Linked DNA regions of Homo sapiens: region 2 is linked to region 1. Evidence: fine-mapped expression QTL. Tissue or cell type: whole blood. Region 1 holds a variant in brackets; the other region holds the start of a gene. All regions are shown on one strand. Distances are from middle to middle.

Region 1 (8,107 bases):
CCCAGGCTGGAGTGCAATGGCGCAATCTCGGCTCACTGCATCCTCTGCCTCCCAGGTTCAAGCAATTCTCCTGCCTCAGCTTCCCAGGTAGCTGGGATTACAGGTGTGCACCACCATGCCTGGCTAATTTTTATATTTTTAGTAGAGACGGGGTTTCACCGTGTTGGCCAGGCTGTTGTCGAATTCCTGACCTCAGGTGATCCACCTTCCTCGGTCTCCCAAAGTGCTAGGATATAGGCGTGAGCCACCGTGCCCAGCCAAAAATGTATTAAAATTCTTATTTGGAATTCAAAGTAAAACTAAGAAAAATGGAATAATTAAATGTATTTTCCCTTTATTTTCAAATTAAAATATCTTCAATATTATACATGCCTATGTTATATTAAAAGCTTATACTATCATTCAGTAAAAATAAAGCTTGATTCTATATCTGGCAGTTTTGTTGGTTTGTTTTGTTGTTTTAATTCTTAGGCTTTGTCTTTCTCTTTTCTATCCATCCTTAGTACTTGATTTTTGACTGTAGCTCTTTCATAAGTAGGTTAGTATTTGTTTTGTTTTTAACAAGTCACAGGGTCAAAGTCCTGCTGATAGACGGAATGAATATGCCTTCCTTCATAAGACTAGACTAGACAGGTTTTTGAAGATAACTAATATTGGGAGTGGCATGATGTGTTTTTCTTAGGTTAGTCAGGAGAAAATAGTGGCAGTTATTTCTGGTGTTGAGAGAAAACTAGAACTAAGAATTCAGCACTTTCTTTCCTTGACCCCTTCCATTTTATCCCCACCTCTAGACCCTGTCACTGGGAGAGACAAAGTGATGGAAAAACATTTAGTTGAAGTCTGAGGAATCCAGTACTTCCAAAGTACGTAATGCATAAGGCACATGGAACTGGAGCCCTTTCTCAGAGACTACAAAATTAAAAATGGAAACTATAAAGAAGTAATACCTGGGCCAGAATATCCAGGAAAAGTTTTAGAGTAACGGGAGAAGTGGGATTTGTAAAGTTGTATATTTGGATATATTATTTACACTAATATCAGTGTGGAATGGATGCAAGAATATATAGATTAATGGATAGAATCAGCATAAAAACAGATTTTATCAAAAGATATTAGAATAAGGTAATGGTTTGATTTCACATTACTGGGGAAAGGTAGAAATATTCTTTAAATAGCCCTGGGACTATTGCTTAATTGAGGGGTGAGAGTGATAAATTCCCATTCTTACTCTGTATACCAAAAGAAATATAAAATGATTAATAGGTTTAAAGACATGTAAAATAAACAGTAGAAAATGTAGGTGAACATCTCATTCTTAGATGAGAAATGACCTGTTAAGGCTAAAAGGTAAATCCAGAATTGCTACATCTATTACGTGAAAATTTAAAATTTCAGTATGCCCAAAAACATAATAGAAAAAATACAAGTGGGAACATTTTAGAACATTAATATTTGATGAGAATTTAATGTCCTGGTTCGTGACCAGCCTGGCCAATATGGCAAAACCCCATCTCTACTAAAAATACAAAAAATTAGCCAGGTGTGGTGGTGGGGGCCTGTAATTCCAGCTACTTGGGAGGCTGAGGCAGGAGAATCGTTTGAACCCAGAGGCAGAGGTTGCAATGAGCCGAGATCACGCTATTGCACTCCAGCCTGGGCAACAAGAGCGAAACTCTGCCTCAAAAAAAAATTAATATCCTGGGTATATAGAGAGCTCTTATAGTTTAGAAACACCAAGCTGTTTTCCAAATTTCACTTGGTTCCTAATTCTACACAGAAGGTCACTTCATTCAGATACCTCAATGTTCATTACATAAATAATTTAACTTGGAAGAACATCAGGAAACCACAGTACTCAAAGTTAGGCTTTCTATGGATGCTTTTTGGGAATTGCGGGGAGGGCAAAGATTTTTTAATGGCCACTGTTATGCCTTCCTTAAACATTTTCCAAACTAAAATTAATTAAGACTAGGTTATATTGAGCAGAACTTTGGAACCTAAATGGCCCATCTGTCTGTGTGAGAGCACAGATTCAATTTTTTTTTTTCCTAAAGAGAACCTCGGTCAAACTCTAGAGTATTCTCTCAGAAACTACTGATTATTAAACTCAAGTTTGCCTAAAAGATGTCACTCCTACACCAGCTTAATGTCTCATTAAGACAGTTTTTCTTAGAACCCTAGGGTGGCTGAACTCCAGTCATGAACCGTCAGCTAGCTAATATCTATCTTCTGTGAGTTTGACTGTGGTTAACAGTATTTATAAAGGAATGTTAGGGATTTGCTTTTTATCACTTCCTCAGATACTTTAGAATGTACCTGAGAATTAAGTCTGGCAAGCACCTAGCAAAGACCGCCTGGACAGTAACTTCCTGACTTACCCCTAGAATTTCTCTTGAGTTTGAAGCCATTGGTTAGCATTGCAGGACATTCTATAAACAATTCTATGAAACTCATCATTGTGTCAACTGTAGGAATGTTGATTACATCACACAATGGGCTCTTTTTGTGGAGTCTGAAGTTATTCTGACCTTACTGTAATATTTGCACCTCTTGTAAACAGTTCATTTGCTACTATCTTAGGTACATTGTGAGTTGGCTTTTTATGTTTGCCGATAAGAAGCAAGAGCTAAATTTGTGCTCCATCTAGAAAACAGGGCACTTTGGTATTGTTTATATTAGTCTCATTCTTGATCCCTTTTTCCTTCTCATATACTTCAGATGATGTTATTTGGCTATATTTTGCCTAGCCTTATAAGCCATCTTACATTCTTTTTTGAAATGAGGCAGTCTGGTAGTCCTAAGTGTTTCTTCAGACCACACCAGTCAGGATGATCAAGAGTCATAGTATATACAAATGGTAGTAGTAATATTTTTGCCTCACTGGTTATGTTTGAAAATCCTAGTCTTCCAAGTCATTTATCTCCTCATTAGGGTCCCTGAGTTGCTCACGAAATGTCCCTATAACAAATGTTCACAGTTCTCTGCAATTTATGAAAATAAGGCCGAAAGTTCTCCTTATCCTGTTCACTTCATGTGTTTCTTTTCAGTCGATACAGTTTCCTTTTTTTTTTCTTTGAGATTACCAAAAATTCCAATGGTAGCTATGCCATTTCCTTCTCTAACTGCCAATTGTTTCCTCTTTTGAAATTGCTGCTCTGTGGACCAGATGTCAGGCTGCAAACTCAAGGTGTTGGTACACACTTGCCCTTATGACGTAGCAATAACCTCTTCTATGGATGCTTCTTACTGCCATGTCAACATGTTCCAGTCTGGGAGTGGTTTCATTTTAGACCAGGTGGTCTCCTACTGGGATGTAGTCTCAGCTGACCCCCTTTTTTTTTATGCCAGAGAATGCTGGAGGATTCAGGAAAATTCCTGTATTTTACAGCTTAGTTTTCCTGGCCCTTCAGAAAAATAAGAGACACCGGAACAACCTGATATGATGGTACCTAGAAGGAGTAAGATCTTCCTTATGCTCAACCCTATCTTACATACAAAGGCCTTTGTAGAAACAGCAGTATCACCTTTAGGGGGGTTCTGCTCTATGAATCTCCAATGATGTATGACAAAGTGAGTAGTGACTAAATTGCTGGAGAAATGAGTAGCAAGAAGGGACATGGAACCTGAAGACGTTGAGTGGACCACACAAGAAAAGTGGTTATACTACCTCCCTCCTTACCCCCTTTTCCAAATATCCTAAACGGAGGCAACATTAAAGAGGCGTCTTCCATGCAAGGGTCAGAAAAGGCCTCTGTGGAGATAATAGTTAAGCTCTGGAAAACTCTTATACATAGCTAAGGAATTTGAGGAAAAACAATTTTTTGGTGGTTTGGTCAATTAGAGAATGAAGCCATAACTAATTACTTACCACTTTCAATTTTTTTCTTAAAATGCCTGCTTATTTTTTTTTATCCTTGTGCAACTTAAGGGCTTGTCTTTTTCTTGGTAATTTAGAAGTATTCCTTGTGTAATAAGGATGAAAACTCTAATTTTGCAAACACTTTTCCCAGTTGCCAGTTGTCTTCTGTTTTGACTGTTATTTCTTACATTTTTTGTTTTATCAAATCCATACATTTTTCATTAATAGCACAGCCCTCATTTAGCCCCCCTCCCCCACGCCCCCGCTGAAAGCTGGCTACCATTTTTATCATTTGGTATATGTCCAGAGCAGTATCCCTAAGTGTGGAATGTGTTGCCCCCAGAACCCAAAGAGCCTACTAGGCACTAGGAGCTTCTTTCTTTGCAGTAGGGAATACAAGATGCAGCAATGTGTTTTTTATTTTGATGGACATGTCTTGTCATAGCCCTGACTGCTGGACTCTTAAAAAGTGTACTTAAGTGGCAAGACTACTAGTCTTTTAATGGCTTATTTCCCATACTCTAGAGTACGCATGTCTCACCAAGACCTCCAGTGTGATAACCAGTTTATGAGCATGATGTCCTCAACATAATCAACATAATATCCTATGGGATGTTTAGATAGTTTAGATCTCTTCAGACTATTTTAT[G/GAC]ACACAGCAAAAGAGTTACCATAGCGAAGAAGCAAATGAGTATTTTTGTCTCTTTCATGTGAATGCACACAATTTCTGATTAGAATGGAAAGAACACATTCACTAAGCCAGTAGACATGTACCTGAGGCCTTACTACTCTGCTCTAGCAATGAAACTGTGTCTGGCACAACAGTTGTGGTCCAGGCTACTGCTTGGTTGAGCTTGTTGTAGTGTACTGATATTCCTCAAGATCCATCTGGTTTCTGCAGGGCCAGACTAATGAATTAAAGTGATATGATAGGGACCACTATCCCTGCATTCTTTGGATCTTTAATGGTTGCACTAATACCTTCCATCACCCCTGGGATAAGAAATTGTAATTTACCGTCTTTGGCAGTTAGGGAGGCAGTTTCAAAGTCTTCCACTTGGCCTTCATCCTCTATGATAGCTCTTGCCCCACAGGCAAAGGACCCAATTGAGGCTAACTTCAATTTTCAAGTATATAAATTCCAATTATACATTCAGGAAATGACTGCAGGGTCCTGGCTAAAGTAGTAGTAAATGGGGTGCATGGTCCAACAGGATGGATCCATGGACATAGTGAACCTACTTTGGCCAGAACCCCATTTACTACTTAGTCTTTGCGTGCGCCCACTCTGAAGGCCATGAAAATACTTTGGGTCTTCATGTATCAATGTCAAATAGTTGTCAAAAAGGCTGGTTACTCTCCTTTTAACAGCAACAATCACATTAGTAAATGTCTGTAAATCTCTATGAGGGAAGAACTGAAGAAAGCTTTGCAGTACTCTATATCTTTGTCATTGCATTGCAGGGTTCTTTCTCTTGGGAAATTGGCTAACTCTTTAGGTAATGGGTTCCAGATCTGAACATAGTCTCAGATCTGGGAAATCAGCAAGGAATTGCAGTGCTTTATTGGGCTACAGCTCTCAGCCTCCTGCTCCTCTATTCTTGCCTTCTGGTTGTATATGTTAAGTAGCACAGTAATTCGCTGCCCATCTATTTTTCCCCTAGAGACACCATATTCTATTATCTATGTATACTACTCCTTCCCATTAAGACCCTTTGGCTACCCCCAAGACTCTAATGGTAAAGCAACTCTGACACTTATGTGCCACTACCTGGCCTCTATTATTTTGGGGCCTATCAACCCATTGTGAATAGCAAGACTAGTTCTGTGTATATTCCCAACCCATGTTTCAGAGTCCCAGGCTTCACATAAGGGTCCTAAATTTAGCGTAATAGACCTGCCTTGGCTGAGCATTTAAACACCTCTGGTGCTCTGTAACCCTAGTTATTAAATCCTGAACTTACCACCCACTGAAGGTATAGTTCCTCTTTGTAAGCGTCCTAAAAGGTCCTGTGGCTGTAAAACTTAGCTTATGTCTGTTAACTGCCTTCAGCTTCTCATCCTCCATCTACAGGACAGTCATACAAGTGAGCAATAACCCACTGACTTAACTGTCCCTGTAGGTGCTGTTCCTCCCAAAACCTTCAAATGCCTCAATTATCACATTAGTAAGGATGCTTCCCTCCACCAGGACATTCTCCCAGGTCACCACTAATGGAAATTTCAGCAATTAAGCTATCACCTATCCCAAGGACTTCATGATTCACATTCTGCTTAGTAAGGGCTTCTCGTTGCCTGCCGAGCATGAGTGAGCCAGTCTCCTAACCTCATCTAACCATATACATTCTCAGACCATTCCAGGTGCCAACTATGTCACTTTGGGTTCCCTAGAAGCAGACAGAATCATATGTGCAATACATTTGCTAAGGAAAATACTTGTGAAGGATAAAGGGGAAAGGTACCAGGGGTAGTCAGAGAATTGGGTAAGAAGAGCTTCAGAATGCAATGTAGTTTCAAGAAAGTCTTGGCTAGGATGATGGGGAGCTCCAAAACCAAGATTACCATTGGAAGTGTCAATCATTGAGCGGGAATGAGCTGGCTCTAGTACCGCTTCCATGCCCAGTCATTGGCTGGGATCAGCAGCCCAGGGAGAGCCAGGACTTCCTCACAATAGGTTTTTTGAAGGGAGAGCTGAGCAGCATATTTTCATGTCAACCACAAAGAATGAGGTGAGCATTTATAGTTAATAACAAATGAATGCAGAAATTTACAATTAAATTCATGGGCTTCATCAAAACACCAGAAATAAAACTGGGAATAGAATCATGTATATGTGAAAATTCTTAGTACAGTGTACATAGAATTTTATAAGCAAGGAAAGGAGGGAAACAAAATATAATTTAATTTTTATCTAATTTCTGATAAAGAATAGCTCAAGCATATAAACAAAAGAAAGCAAAATGAATGTGATTATAATACTTATAAAAAAGAAATATTTCTTAGTCAAAAGAAATGCTGCAAACAAAATTAAGAGTCAAATTGAAAAAAAAAACTTGACAAATAGACCACTTTTAACATCCTTACATAAAGAACTCTTACAATTTTTTTTAAACACAGGTTTTCTCCAACTTATGGCTGTTTCATAGTTGAATGATTCCATATAGTACTTTAATTCCATTACTTTGGTCTCCATTACATAAATAGTTTAACTTGGAGGGTGCATCAGGAAGCAACACTGCTTAAAGCTAGGCATTCTAATGGAAGCTTTATTGACTTTTCTCTCTCTTTTTTTCAAATGTGCCATAGTGGGCTTTTGGTTACACCTTCCTTAAACATTTAACAGAGTAAAATTATTGAGTCTGTGCTATATGGAGCAGAAATCTGGGCCCTCAATTGACCATTTGTCTGTGATTAAGAGCAAATTCAGTTTCTTCCTGAGGAGAACCTTAGCCAGGTCTTAACTACCCCTCGGCTCATCATGGTGTGGCAGTATGATGGCTCTTCTGGTTAGGCTTTTTAGCATGCAGAAATATTTCTCCTAACCCTGGTGGATCCTCTAGCAGTTTATACTTGAATTTGTACTCTCAATCATCCAAACAGAATGGCTATACTCCAGATATTTACCAGAGGTGTTACACACTTTCACATTTATTCTGCTAACTGTGATGTTTAGTCTTACTGCTTCCATCCTTTTTTTTTTTTAATCTTTCTGTTACAGATTTATTTCCTATTGGAACCAAGTCTGTGAGTTCACACCCACATACCAGATTTTGCTTCGTGATTGTCAGAGGCTAGAACTCATCCATCTTGTTTAATATGTATTTTTTGTTGACTGCTCTTTATTATAGTGATTTATTTTTCTCTTTTCTAACATGTTGAAATGGCCTAGTTTTTATTTATTCTCTATTGATTTGAGCCTCCTATGCCCTGCTTCTGTCATACCAGTGGTTACCTTATCTTTCTTCAGAATTCTAATATCTGAGTAGGGCCATGTAAAAGAAAGACATATTATTGAAACAAAAATGAAAATTGCCATGAGCCCCTTTTTTACCTCATGAAGCATGTGTATACTTCATTTTTGGCAAGGTACTAGCCTTGAAAATACCAGTGCAGTAAGGGGATTTCAGAAAGAAGACACCAGAGAGTTTGTAAGCCCCTGTCTCTCAACATTGTGGTCATCTTTAAAATACCAGGGAAGCTATGTGGAGAGAACTGAAATAGGAATGTCTACTGTTGCCAGCCTATGCCTGC
Region 2 (8,087 bases), 92 kb after region 1:
CACCATACAAAGTCATCTCCATACTTCCATACCAATGAATTATGATGCATTTACTACTATAAAATATTTTTTTGCTTTCAGCACAGCATTGCAGCCCACTTAAAAACCATGTTAACTCTAAATTGTTACCTATTTCTAACAGCTATCCCTTTTCAATTAATCCATGGATTTTAAAGCAAGCCTCTTAGATCTTCATCAAAGTCATTCGTACAAATGCTGAGGAAGACAAAACTCAGGGCAAAGGCTTATGATCCTTAACCAGGGACGATACCCTGACGCAAACCCAAGAACGTATACACCTCGCCGGTGCTGGTTCAGTCTGCCTCCCGCTCACACAGCAATACTGCTAATTAATCTGCACACCACCTCATACACAAGAGCATCCTGCATCCTTGACAAATGCTTTGCAGAAAGCAGGATTAACTTATCTTTCAAAACAAAGTGTAAGAAATCTATACATATTAAAATTATAATTATATACAAATATTTATGTACACAGAACAAAGACTAGAAGGGATACAACATCAATGGAAATGGTTGTTCCAGAGTCAGTCTGTGGAAACTGGAGATTTGTTTTTTACTTAATACTGTCTTTAATACGGTTACAGAATTTAAAACACTGGGAATTATGAAGAGAGAATTTGGCTTGGAAGCAATCCATGTGAAATAGCATTTAAGAGCATTGAGACTCTATCTGATCCTATCAACCTGAAAACTTGAATCAGAAACATATTCACTTGAAAAGACTTATTGATACCTAGAAACATTGGCTTTTTCTTCTTTATTATTTTTTTTTTTTGTTTCTCGTACTGCTACTTTAGGCTTAATATTTCTGGAAATCAGGGAGATAACAGACTGGAGAACTGGATTCCGAAGTTTAGAAAAAGCCTGAATGGAGTGTGCGTTAGTCTATGTATGCTCCTCACATCTGTCTGTCTGTCTGTCTCTGCTGGGGAGGTTGAGAGGGATAGAAAGAAAACAGCCATCATATTGATATTTCTGTGAAGCTATGGACTAAGCGATCTCCCCTCCAGCCCAAGAATTTCTAACGAACACAGACCCATATCATCAATTCCCCTAGAGTCATTTTTTTACACTGGAGGTAGGAAATAAGTGTTAGAATATGCATTTAGGTGTTTACAGAATATGGAAGGGTAAGTTTTAAGGAAAGGATTTGGGTAGATTATGGATAATTAGCAAAAAAGAAAAAGGAAGAAGGTGGCTGGGTATTTTGGAGAAAATGTGATCTATAAATACTGCACTTATTAGAATCAGAAACAATCTGAATATTTGACTTGGGAATTTTTTTAACAAGTCAGGATTTCTTCACTACTTCAATATTTTGTGTACTGCATGATTTTCACCAGTGGAAAACTAGTGTTAGAAACTGGATACATGTTATCTTTATTTCCTTGAGGTTGTCGCTAACCAGTTTTTTCTGGTGTTGTCCCTTATTTTCAATGTCTGTGAGACAAGTGAAAATGCCACTTTGCTTAGAAATGCAATTTATCCACCATACTATAGGATAAGTAAAATACATGAAGCAAATCAACAGCTTTTAGATTTATGGCAAACTGTTGTAAAAATGGATAAAATGTTCAATACAAAGTCCACTTACTCTTTGACAACTGGAAATTGTACTTTGCTTAGAAATAAATTTTCCGTACCATACCAGAACTTAAGCCAAATACAGGTGGTAAGTCAGCAGGTTCGTAAATCCATAGCAATTGTCATTAAAAATGAATAAGGTGTCCAAATAGAAAGTCCAGTTATTATTTGACAACTGAAAATTTTACTTTGCTTAGAAATATATTTTCTCTATATTAGAAATTAAGCCAAATATATGTGGTAAGTCAGCAGATGCATAGATCTATAGCAAATTGTCATTAAAAAGGGATAAAATGTCCAAATAGAAAGTACAATTACTATTTTACAAGTGAAAATTCCAGTTTGTTTTGAAATCGTTTTCTAAAACCCTAGAACTTAAGCTAAATACATAAGGTAAATTCAACAGCTTTATAAATACATGGCAAATTTTCATTAAATGGGTAAAATGTCCAAAGAGAAAGTCTAGTTATTATCTAACAAGTGAAAATCCCACTTTGTTTTGAAATACAATTTTCTTAACATACTAGAAGTTAAATATAGGTGTTAAATCAACAGCTTCGTAGATCTACAGCAAATTCTCATAAAAATAGATAAAATGTCTAAATACGAAGCCCAGTTATTATTTGATAAAATAAATAATACACATTAACTCCTCTTTGCTGTATATGCAACCCTGTGCAAAATGGGCAGAAATAGTCAACACCAGAAATAAATATCTGAGAAAATCCAAAATTCACATAGATATTAAATATCCAAAATATGTTTAAAGTTCTTATCTATTAATTTGGTTTTGGTTTTGGTTTTGAAAATGTTTGTTGTTCTAGACAACACAAAAATGTTACCTAAAGTATTGCTCTATTAATGTTATCTTTCTGTTTTATTTTTAGTATTGTTTTGTTTTTTGGATAACAAAAAGGTTTTATCTAAATTACTTATATATTGATGCTGTTTTTTCCCTTAGAAAATTCTATTTCTAAGCAAAGTGAAAATATTTTCATATGTAGAGGAATAAAAAACTACAATATGTTAGAATAGTGAGATGGGAGAAAATTCTTCTCAGTTTTCTGGTTTTAAATATTTATGTACTAAGGTTGTTCATTTAAAATTTTAATTAAAAAATTAATATTATTTCCTTTAAAGAAAGCTCTCCAAACTTAATGTTATTTAACATTTAAAGGCTCTTTGGAAAGAAAATAATCGAGGAGAATTAATTTGATCTTGTTTTTAACTTTTAGAAAGTATTTAACTGCAATCCTATGAAAAATATTTATTGTATAGCTACCTATATATGCATAGAGAACGTCTGAAAAAGCAGACTCTATAATGTTTACTGGTGTTATTGCAGGGTGAATAGGTTACAGGTGACCTTTTCTTTAGAGTTTTCTAGGGTTTTCTCTCCTGAATTTTGTACAATGACCTGAAATTACTTTTATTATGGTAAAATACTAATTACGTTTTTTAAAAAAAGTCCTGGTTAGCATTTTGAAATGAAAAAATCAAATTGGTTCAAACTTGTTCAAACTTTTAAAGTCTTAAGATGGATTTTTGAACTTTAATTTTTCCTGCTTTTCATCTATACTGGTTTTAAATCTCAATTTTTAGAAAAATAATGTCTCAGTTAACTAGGTGAAGTAACTTTCGAATTTAAACAAACAAACAAAACTGGTAAGAATTTGACAGCGGTCACCAGAACAGTACTCTACCAAGCATAAGAAATCCTGGAATTATTCTATCTTGCAGAAGAGGGTGAACATCCTAAAGATTAAATTAAAAGGCACTTCTAAAAAGTATAATTGTGTTTACCCAACTTCCTAGGGAAATGTCTTTGTTAAAAAGCTGCATTTCATTCATTCATATTCCGGATAGTGGGCATTTTCTAATAAAAAGTAAAATCTCAGTAAATGGGCTACAGTTTTGTTTATTCCTAGAAAGGCTCTCTTTTAAAGTGCGGTGTCTGCAACGTTGTTATGACAATAAGTCAAATTCTTATTGATATTCCAAGTATAAAATAATCCGTAGCAATGTTACTAAAATGTGCTCAATTTTGCTCTTCAAATATGAAAGCGTTTCATCTGTGTTTCAGAAACCTAACTCAGCTGTAGACAATTTGGTTTTCCCTTTTAACTTAAACTTGTTTTACTAAGATCATCAACAGATTGTCAGTTTCCCAAGCACCTGACACTGAGGCGCTTAGATGGGAATCCGCGTTAAGGTTTTATTTAGCATCCTTCCTCATCAGAATTTTAGCGTCTTATCAGCCACTGCAATTTTCCCTGACATAAAATATATATGTTCATAGTACAAATGCACGCAAATATTTGTGGCCGAATCTCGGCAACCCGCTGGAAAGGATTAAACGTGCGGTTGCCGTGACTAAACGCATTCATTCACCCTACAAGATTTAGGAAAATGTAACGTTGCAAGGGAAGCAAGGTCTCTGTGTAAACCTCGTAATCGCCACCAAAAGTCGGTAGCTGGGAGCCTTCAAAGCCCGCCAAACACACTGGAAGCATCCACAGCTGTTTTAAATTGGTTTTGGTTTCTGGAAATAGCGCACTCGGTACGGCAGCATCTCTGGCCTCCAGCCGGGGTTAACCCTGACCTGAACGCCCTGTTTAGCTCCCAGCATTTCATGATTCCGCTTCCCTGCTCCGTAAAACCGAAGAAAACCGAGATTTCCGTCACCGAGAAATGCACTTAGCAAGAGGGGGAAATTCGGTGTTTTAAATGTCACATTTTTGTGTTCTCTACCACTATCAAGAAAAGGAAAAAAGATGTGTTTGTGTAGCGGGGACGCAGCTTGACACCCATTTCCTTTGGCTCGCATCGCGGTCGCAGAGCCCAATCGCGGGGAAACGGGCCCCCCAGAAAAACAGGCAACGACCCCCAGCTCTTTGCTACAGGGATCGGGAGAGGACTACCCTGGGGCTGGGCGGGGAGGGGGATGTTGGGAACAGGAATTGGAGATGGAATTTCTGCGCCCGCAGAGCAGGGAGGGGCCCGCGGGGGCGCGGAGAGGAAAAAAAGGCCAGGGGTCAAGCCTGGGGAGAGAGAAGCTGGGCCGGGGAAATGGGGTACAGGGTGTACTGAAGGAGGGGTACGGTGGGGTCCGGGACAGAAAGAGAGGCTGGTGCCCAAAGGGCGCGCTCAGGCGCCCGGAACCCGAGCGGGGGAGGGGGAGGCGGCGGCCTGTTGGCCCCGGGACCTCCACGTCGCGCGCAGGCCACTAACCTGTCAGCAAGAATGTGCCAGTGGTCGCGGGGCTCATCCTGCGTGTCCCCCGACCCTGTCCCGTCCAAGCACAGGGGTCTCCCAGCTCCCACCACCGGGGCAATTGCATTCTTGGCCTGGCTAGGCCGTCCGTCCTCGATTCTCCCCTCCCCTCCCTTTCTTCTTCCCTCCCAGCTTGGCCAGTTCAGCATCAGCATCCCGCACCCCCTCGGTAATCCCGTACTCCCTCTAGCGGCGGGCCACTGCAGCGTGGCCACCGCCCCCACCCCCATCCCCCATCCCCGCACCCCCCTCCACCCCCTAGCCCGCGGAGCACGCTGGGATTTGGCGCCCCCCTCCTCGGTGCAACCTATATAAGGCTCACAGTCTGCGCTCCTGGTACACGCGCTTCAACTTCGGTTGGTGTGTGTCGAAGAAACCTGACTGCGCCCTGAGGAGAACAGCGGAGAAGGTCCACCGAGCCTGGCGAAAGGTCCGCTGAGCGGGCTGTCGTCCGGAGCCACTCCGGGCTGCGGAGCACCCAGTGGAGACCGCGCCTGGCTCAGGTGTGGGACCCCATCCTTCCTGTCTTCGCAGAGGAGTCCTCGCGTGGTGAGTATGCGGTGAGGACGTTTTTTTTTTAAAGATCACGTTCATTCCCCGTGCTTATCGGGAGCTGCGGGAGATGGAGTAGCACCCCAGAATGTCTCCACGCAAAACTTGTCACGCCTTCACTGGCTGTACCCCAAAACAAATGGGGAAACCAAGCCTTAAAGGCTTGGGTTTCCAGGACCAAGTCCAGATACGGGCTGTAGACAGAGATGAGCTGCGGACAGTGATGAGCTGCAGACGGTCAGGAGCTATAGATCGATTTGCAATTTGCTCTTCAAATGCGCTACCAAGTGCCATGCTTTACAAACAGATAAGCGCTTCAAATGCGCTACAAACTGGCGCTTCAGATGCGCTACAAGCACGCTTCACGCGGGCGACAAACTGATGGGAGCTACAACTGGCGCTTCATTGCGCTATAAACTGATGGGCGCTTTATGTGCCACAAACTGACGGATGGGCGCTTCAGTGGCGCTACAATCCAGAACGAGGAGCAGCGATATAGGAGCTGCAGACAGAAAACTGAATTGCGCTTTACATGCGCTGCAAAATCTGAGCTGCAGAAGAGTAGCACTACAAAAAACGCTACAAAAACGATGCGATTAGCCAGCCCGACAACAGCGCTTCATTGCGCTGCGAGGCACATGAACTGCAGAGGTACATGAGCTGCGGAACAATTCACACCTAAGATGCACTACAAAGTGGTAAGAGCTGCAGAGGTACAGGAGCTGCAGACCGTTTGCGCTACAAATAAAGCAGCCGTAGTGGGACATGAGCTGCGGAGTACAATTCCTCTGTTTTCTTGGAGCAGGACCCCACCCTTTCACCTTTTGGAATGGCTCCCACTCTATTTTTCTGCAGGACGGTTCTCGCATGATGGTGCTGGTAGACAAAATGGAGCCCCGGGCAAAAATTAGTGTTTAACATTCTGCCCACACCATTCCCGCTATAGCAGTGGAGTGGAGGGGCACTGATTGGAGTGGAAATGGGAATCTTTTGGTGATGGCAGAGCAGGCTGCCTGCCTACTTGTGCTTGATTGAAGTGGCGGTGTAGTTGTGGTGGCGCGAATCAGCGTCCAGCAACAGTTTGTGGAAACTGTGGGTTTGCTGAGTATGGCGGGGGAATTGGATCTGTGGATTGCTCTTGCTGCATGAAATGAATCTGGCTTTGGTGACTGGTGGGAGGGGTTTGGGAGGGGGGATTCTGGCGGCGGGGGGGGGGGGTGTGCAGATACTCTGCAGCCCTGTAGCAGCCAGTCTCAGGCCTGCCCCGCCCATCCTAGTGTGCCTTCTCTGCGGTGCTTAGCGCCTCCTCCTACAGCGCCTCCTCAGAGCGCGCCTCCCCTGCAGCGCGCCTTCCCAGAGCGCGCCTTCTAGATGCGGCCTCCTCAGGCCCCTCCTCCCAGCTCCTTAGCGCCTGCCTGCCCAGGCCCCACCTCTCTCTGGCCACCTCATTCTGAGGTGAGCTGCTCAGGCCCCGCCTCTTCCAGGCCCGCCTTTTCTGTGGTGAGCTGCCCAGGCCCTGCCTCTCCCGGGCCCACCTACTCTGAGGTGAACTGTCCAGGCCCCGCCTCTCCCGGGGCCGCCCCCTCTGAGGTGAACTGCCCAGGCCCCACCTCTCCTGGGCCCGCCTCCTCTGAGGTGAACTGCCCAGGCCCCGCCTCTCCTGGGCCCGCCTCCTCTGAGGTGAACTGCCCAGACCCCACCTCTCCTGGGCCCGCCTCCTCTGAGGTGAACTGCCCAGGCCCCGCCTCTCCTGGGCCCGCCTCCTCTGAGGTGAACTGCCCAGGCCCCGCCTCTCCTGGGCCCGCCTCCTCTGATGTGAGCTCACCCAGATCCCACCTCCCCAGGCCCGCCTCCTCTTAGGTAGCCTGCTCAGGCCCCGCCTCTCCAAGGCTTGGCCCCTCCCTAAGCCTGCCTCTGCCGGGCTGGCCTATAGTCCCACCTCCCTCAGAGCCGGCTAGCACACATGCGCAGTGTGAACCCTCAGCCCCTCCCTTCAGGCGCCGGTCCTCTGCACCTGCGCACCTTCCTTGCCTGAGCCCTGGCTGTACAGCCCCGCCCCCCTGCGGTTTCTCTGCTGTGTTGGTTTTGCTTTTTGGCTACTAGAGTCTAATAGAATAATAAATAAAACAATTAACAATAATAATTATAACTGGAATTTATGAGCACTTTTAATATGTTCTTTGCATATATTCAATAACATAATCCCACAATTTAAACTCCTGATAGTGGCTTATGAAGGGACCTTGTAAACTGACATGGCTGGTGCCTCTAAAGGCAATTTAGCCAAATGTTTTTACTGCAAATGAAAACCAAAACTTAACAATTTATTTTTAAAAACTTTAAAAATATTTTCACATTTAAGGTTTTTTTAGAGGCACTAGTGGACCTTTGGGAATCGGATGTTTTGGTGGATACAAAATTGGTGCTGTTGGTTTGGCCTCTGAGTGAGGATAAGGCTTTTATTTGCGTGCCTATGAAGCTGGGTGTTTTCCTTGAATCTCTAGGTGATTAACCCTAGCCTATTTGCCTATGTATAATAAATTGTGCCTGCACATGGTAGGCATTCATTAAATATGTGTTAAATGACCAGAGTAAATTGGTTTATTCAGTGTCTTGCTTGGTGTCTGTAGGTCTCTTCTGATTTGCTCCTTTCC

The links. PIP is the estimated chance that this variant, and not a neighbour inherited with it, causes the effect.
Region 2: SGCE starts here. The variant in region 1 is fine-mapped to the expression of SGCE in whole blood (TOPMed, PIP 0.94).

Annotation. Positions count from the first base shown.
Region 1 is chr7:94,559,566-94,567,672 of GRCh38, forward strand. It overlaps a transcript of CASD1 not described here. Among named protein-coding and RNA genes, the nearest start is that of CASD1, 54 kb to the left of the region's middle. The variant G/GAC (reference allele first, on the strand shown) is at 4,509.
Region 2 is chr7:94,651,151-94,659,237 of GRCh38, forward strand. It overlaps SGCE (sarcoglycan epsilon), which reads right to left and starts at 4,983. Exons shown (of 11, transcript NM_003919.3): 1 at 4,840-4,983. The coding sequence starts at 4,948. PEG10 (paternally expressed 10) reads left to right here and starts at 5,175. Exons shown (of 2, transcript NM_001172437.2): 1 at 5,175-5,441. The coding sequence starts at 5,437. RefSeq lists enhancers at 4,331-5,108, 6,378-6,427, 7,207-7,501 and a silencer at 6,898-7,137.